Regions from separate parts of the Homo sapiens genome. Here region 1 is linked to region 2. The links come from fine-mapping of genetic effects on gene expression. A gene starts in region 2. The other region holds a variant in brackets. All regions are shown on one strand. Distances are from middle to middle.

Region 1 (2,913 bases), 670 kb after region 2:
ACTATCCTGAGCACAAAAGAACAAAACTGGAGGAATCACATTACCTGACTTCAAATTATACTACAGAGCTGTAGTAACTAAAATAGCATGGTACAAGCATAAAAACAGACACATAGACCAATGGAACAGAACAGAGAACCCAGAAACAAAATGATACATCTACAGTGAACTCAGTTTCAACAAAAGTACCAAGAACATACATTGGGGAAAGGACAGTCTCTTCAATAAATGATGCTGGGAAAACTGGATATGCATATGCAGAAGAGTGAAACTAGAATGATATCTCTCACCATATACAAAAATAAAATAAAAGTGGATTAAAGATTTAAATCTAAGAACTAAAATTATGAAACTACTAAAAAATATTGGGGGAAACTCTCCCCCCAGAATATTGGACTGGGCAAAGATTTCTTGTGTAATATTCCACAAGCACAGGCAACCAAAGCAAAAATGGGCAAGTGGGATCACATCAAGTTAAAAACCTGCTGCATAACAAAGGAAACAATCAACAAGGTGAAAAGACAACCCACAGCATGGGAGAAAACATTTGAAAAGTACCCATTTGACAGAGATTAATAACCAGAATATATAAGGAGTTCAAACAACTCTATAGGAAAAAATCTAATAATCTAATGTTTTAAATGGCCAAAAGGTCTGAACAGACATTTCTCAAAAGAAGAGATACAAATTGCAAACAGGTATATAAAAAGATGCTCAACATCATTGATCATCAGAGAAACATAAATCAAAACTACAGTGAGATATCATCTCATTCCAGTTAAAATGGTTTTTATTCAAAAGACAGGCAATAACAGATGATGGCAAGGATGTGGAGTAAAGGGAATCCTCATACACGGTTGGTGGGAATGTAAATTAGTACAAGCACTATGGAGAACCGTTTGGAGGGTCCTCAAAAACTAAAATAGAGTCACCATATGATCCAGCAAACCCACTTCTAGGTATATACCCAAAAGAAAGGAAATCAGTATATCGAAGAGATACCTACAGCATTGTTCACAATAGCCAGGACTTGGAACCAACCTAAGTGTCCATAAACAAACAAATGGATAAAGAAAATGTTACATATATTTTTAAAAAGAATGAGATCCTGTCATTTGCAACAACATGGATGGAACTGGAGGCCATCATGTTAAGTGAATTAAGCCAGGCACAGAAAGACAAACTGTACATGTTCTCACTTATCTGTGGGAGCTAAAAAGTGAAACAATTGAATTCACAGGGATAGAGGGCAGACGGATGGTTACCAGAAGCTGGGAAAGGTATTGGGGCAGGGGTAGTGGAGAGCAAGTGGGGATTGTTAATAGGTACAAAAAATGGTTAGAAAGAATGAATAAGACCTACTATTTGATAGCACAACAGGGTGACTATAGTCAGTAATAATTTAATTGTACATGTTAAAATAATGAAAAGAGTACAACTGGATTGTTTATAACACAAAAGATAAATGCTTGAGGTAATGGATACCTCATTTAC[C/T]CTAATGTGATTATTATGCATTGCATACTTGTGTCAAAATATCTCATGTACCCCACAAATATATACACCTACTATGTACCCACAAAAACTAAAAATAAATTTTTAAAAATTCCTTCTGTAAAAGTACAAAACAGCTCTTATTACAGTATGACATGTTTTTAGCATCATGATATTGGAAGTCCACTTCCAAGAAGAAAAACTACGTTTTTCAGATGAATTACCCTGTCAGCTGAAGAATCACAAGGTTCATACATTTGGAAAGGACAGCTTTATTTCTCACAAAAGGCTGCAACCTGCAGGGTGGCCATTCTGACACGCTGGGAAGTGTAACCTCTGGCCAGAAGCCAGAAACAGGCACTTCAAGGTAGTGCTGAAAGAAACGGGAATTTATGCTGAGCAGAGTGGCTGAAAATACCTTTTTATTAGGCTGTAGGAGGAGTCATGAATATTTATTAAAGGAGAAACATGTGCTTCACAATTGAGCTTTATGCCTCTTCATGAATTCCCTGTACAAAAAATTGTGGCATTAGCATGATCTGAGAGTGGAGTTTTCAGCCCCCTAATGTCAAAAGATGAAGGGGAGGACACAAATGCCCTGGCTGTGCACCCTGCATAGATTGGCCAGAACCACTTCATGGTTGTTGGTCTCTTATCAGGAAGGGATTTATGGTTTAACTGGTGAGCTGTCATGTTGAAACTGCAATGTGGGAAAGGGAGTCCTGTGGCAGCCTCAGAGGACTGGCTAAAGTTGACAAAGTAATGAGTCATCCATTTCTCATTTTCCAGAGCTGGTTTCTGCTTACTTACGCCTTAGGAAAGAATTCTGGTTAAAGGTTAGAAGGAATGGGGCATACTGAGGCATGTTCGACCTGCTAGCCCATCATGGCCAGGAACTCAGTTTCTAAGGTTTCTCTGGAGTCCCCTGGGCCAAGAGATGGTGTGTTCAGTCAGTTGGAGAAGCTTAGGACTTTATTTTTATTTCTCAACCCATATTAAAGAATTGATTCTATTAACCTCAAAAGTCAAATACTCATACATAAAGTCCTTGAAAAGGCTCATTCAGAATCACATGCTTATGCGTAAATTTCTCTGATTAAGGCTTCTTTGTTTAAAGAGCCAACATTCAAGGAAAAAGTTTTAAAACTATTCCATAATTTTTACAATTTTCTTAGTTGTCAGATTTGTATCTGCATTGTCTTCTATGATTTTTACTATAAATATAATTACATGAGAATGGAGTGTTTCTTAGAAGTGACCACTTATGATATTAGTCTCCATTTAAACATTTCTTCCCATGTGATACAAATATATTTCCATATTTATTGTGTCAGTATATTTGTTACTCTCATGAAGCAAACAGAATGCCAATTAAATGCAAATAGCAGGATTTAAGTGATTAGATGTGATGAGGAACTACTT
Region 2 (2,913 bases):
TAAATCAGGTGGGAGGCACACTTACAAAAATGAAACAATTTTTGGTTCACATTTTACACCACACAGGTATTCTGTATCTTTAGAACATGAGAAAATACATATTCTCAGTCTGATAGGTCTCTGACTTGGGGGTTTCTTTTACTGTACTTTTTTTCTCTCTAGTAGCTGAACATTTTAAAGCAATCAGCAGAAAAAATATAAAACTTCAGAACCAATTAGACTTTTAAAAGCAACGTTCTTGCCCTTTCCAGAGATACATTCCTTAATCCTCCTACAAATCATGACCTCACACGATAACTTTAAGGGTGAACATCAACTTATCTACATTTTGGTGCTTTCTTTCCCTTAAGTGGCAGATGGTTTCTATTAACCTAAAATTGAAGTCATTGTTGGGGGACCCCTAATTCCATGTCTAGTCCTAGTGCCCAGAGGCTACCAAAGACGATACGAATAGCTTCTCAGGCACTCTACCCACCGTTTACCTTGTTAATACAAATCTTTCCCAGACCTGGGTCCCGAAATTATTTTACCCTGCAGAGCAGAAATGTTACGGTGTTCATTCAGTGAACTCTTCCCTAGTTTTTAATCTTTGTATTTTCTGCGTATACTTCAAGCCACCAGTAACTTTCCCAGTTACCAAGAAACAGTGTAACACAGGTCGCTATTTGTTTTGTTCGGAATTTACGAGCAATTTAACCACACGTGATTAGCAACATTAAGGGGGCTCCTCCAGGCAAAGAATCCACAGAATGAGAGGCCCTTGGTACCCAAATGAAGCAACAATGAAAGATCGGCGAAGCTCAGCAAGGTTCCTGAGCGCCACGGACGCCTGCTCTGATTTCAGGTTGCCGGCGCGCGCCCGCGGGTCTGCCTTTATGGACGAGGCGCAAGAGGGATCCAGGAAAGACGGTGCCCTTAGAGACTCGGAGATTAGCGTGGGCAACCCTGCCACCAGCTGCCCCTGCCACCAGCCGCCCCCACAACAAAAAGGAGGAAACGCTCCGCATCCCGTCACCAGGACAACTCTGTAACCCGACACCGAGGCTCAAGATTCCGCATCCCGGGCAGCGAACACAGGAGAAAAGCACATCGCGGCCCGGCCGCGGGGCTCCAAGGCGTCCGTGCCGCCGCTGTTCCTGGGGTGCCGAGAGCGACGCGGGGTCCACCCTCTCCGCCGGCCCGAGGTCCGAAGCTCGGCCCGCCACCGCTCCCGGCCGGCGCCTCCCGCACGTGGCGGCCGTGATTGTCCCGGGGCGGTATCCCTCCGCGCCCCCGCCTCAGTCTCCCCCCGCCCTTCCCGGGACCCTCCGTGCCCGGGCGCCGCGGAAGGATCGCACGCACGCGCGCGCGCACGCCCAGCCGTGTCCGCGGAAAACGGAGGGCGCTGCGGTAAGGAGCAGCCGCCACAGGCACAGCCGCTTCGCAGCCTCCCGCCGCTGGTTTGTCAGCCCCGCGGCTGCGGGCGGCCGGGCGGCCGAGCGCGCTCTGAGGTTCGTCCCTCATCGCTGAACCCGCGTCCTCCCGCCGCAGCTCCTCGGGGAGGGGGGCGGTCGGTGCCTGCGCAGAGCCGCCTCCTCCCCGCCCCCGCCCCGCCTCCCCCCGCGCCGCCGCCGCCCGCTACCGCCGCCGCCGCCGCTGCGCCTGCTGCTCCTCGCCGTCCGCGCTGCAGTGCGAAGGGCTCGAAGATGGCCGGTTGGCAGAGCTACGTGGATAACCTGATGTGCGATGGCTGCTGCCAGGAGGCCGCCATTGTCGGCTACTGCGACGCCAAATACGTCTGGGCAGCCACGGCCGGGGGCGTCTTTCAGAGCATTACGGTGAGGACCAGTGGCGGCCGGTACCCTGGTCCCTGCACCGGAGCGGGGTGGCCGGCCGCGGGGGCACCGCAGCGCGGGGCTGGAACACTGAGGGCCGAGCCCGCAGGTGTGCTAGGCAGCGGGCGCCGAGGATGCGGCTGCCGGGCGGGCGGGGAGGCCGAGGCCCGGGGACGCCCCCTCACCCGGGGCTGCGCTGACAGGCTGGGGGCGGCGGCCGGACTCCTTGCTGGCCCTGGCCGGGCGCCCCCGGCGTTCCCAGCGTCGGTCCAGGTGCCCGGGTTGGGGGAGGGGGCACGCACCGGCCAGGGCAAGGGGAGGGGTTCCTTTTTTCCTCCTAGTGCGGTTCCCCTAGGTTCTCTTGAAGCCCTGAGGTTTGCTATGCACGTTCTGGGGTGGAAGCGGGGGTCGGGGATCCGGGCTGGGGCGCGCGGGCCCCGGGTGGAGGTCCCTAGGCTCTCTGGCCGGCTCTTGCTCCGCGGACAGCGCGCCTCCCGCGCCTCCGGCTGTGGGAGGCGGCGGCCCCGGCCCGGCCCCCGGGATTCTCGAAGCGACTTTGCGTAGGTTTACCGATGTCCAGGCCTCTGGGGCTTGCGAGAGATGTACGCCGACCGCGTAGGTGGATTCGTGAATCTCGACTTCAGCTCTAGCTCTATAGGTTGTTTTTTTTTTTTTTTTAAATTCTCCAAGATGGCGAACTGCCATTGATTTCTCTTCTCATATGGAGATTCATCGATATACGGTTATCCCCAGTTATGCAACATAGCTCAAAAAAGGGGTGCTTTTCGGGGGCTTTCAATTATCTGCGAAGACCAGGAGCACACTTCACTTCTCTAAGTCCCTCCCTCTTTAGTGGTGGCAGTAAAGGAACTAATGCAGTTTTATGCTTCACATTGCCTGATTTTCTTGAGACTTGATGGTTTTGAGTTGGTTGCAATATGTTTGGAGAATATTTGCCACAAAACCTCCAGCTTATTGTTTTGCCTGTTTCTGCCCAAGGCTGTTTCTAAAATTATGATAATTGTACTAAATACGAGACCATTCTCTTTATTTCTTAGCACCACGCTCCCTTTCCATTAAGCACCAAAATTCAGGTCCC

Alleles and levels. Alleles are on the strand shown, and positions count from the first base shown. SD is a standard deviation of normalised expression in the study named.
In carriers of allele T in region 1, the expression in fetal neocortex of the gene that starts at base 1,647 in region 2 tends to be higher than with C alone (large effect, 1.8 SD a copy in Walker 2019).

Evidence for each region. PIP is the estimated chance that this variant, and not a neighbour inherited with it, causes the effect.
Region 1: its variant is fine-mapped to the expression of PFN2 in fetal neocortex (Walker 2019, PIP 0.95).

What each region holds. Positions count from the first base shown.
Region 1 is chr3:149,299,637-149,302,549 of GRCh38, reverse strand. The region is part of intron 1 of TM4SF18-AS1 (TM4SF18 antisense RNA 1); the gene reads right to left. Among named protein-coding and RNA genes, the nearest start is that of TM4SF18-AS1, 16 kb to the right of the region's middle. The variant C/T (reference allele first, on the strand shown) is at 1,495.
Region 2 is chr3:149,969,629-149,972,541 of GRCh38, reverse strand. It overlaps PFN2 (profilin 2), which reads left to right and starts at 1,647. Exons shown (of 3, transcript NM_053024.4): 1 at 1,647-1,817. The coding sequence starts at 1,686. LOC646903 (a long non-coding RNA gene) reads right to left here and starts at 1,263. Exons shown (of 1, transcript NR_036538.1): 1 at 1-1,263. RefSeq lists enhancers at 384-914, 915-1,446 and silencers at 1,292-1,351, 1,582-1,661, 1,872-2,111, 2,122-2,171, 2,192-2,451.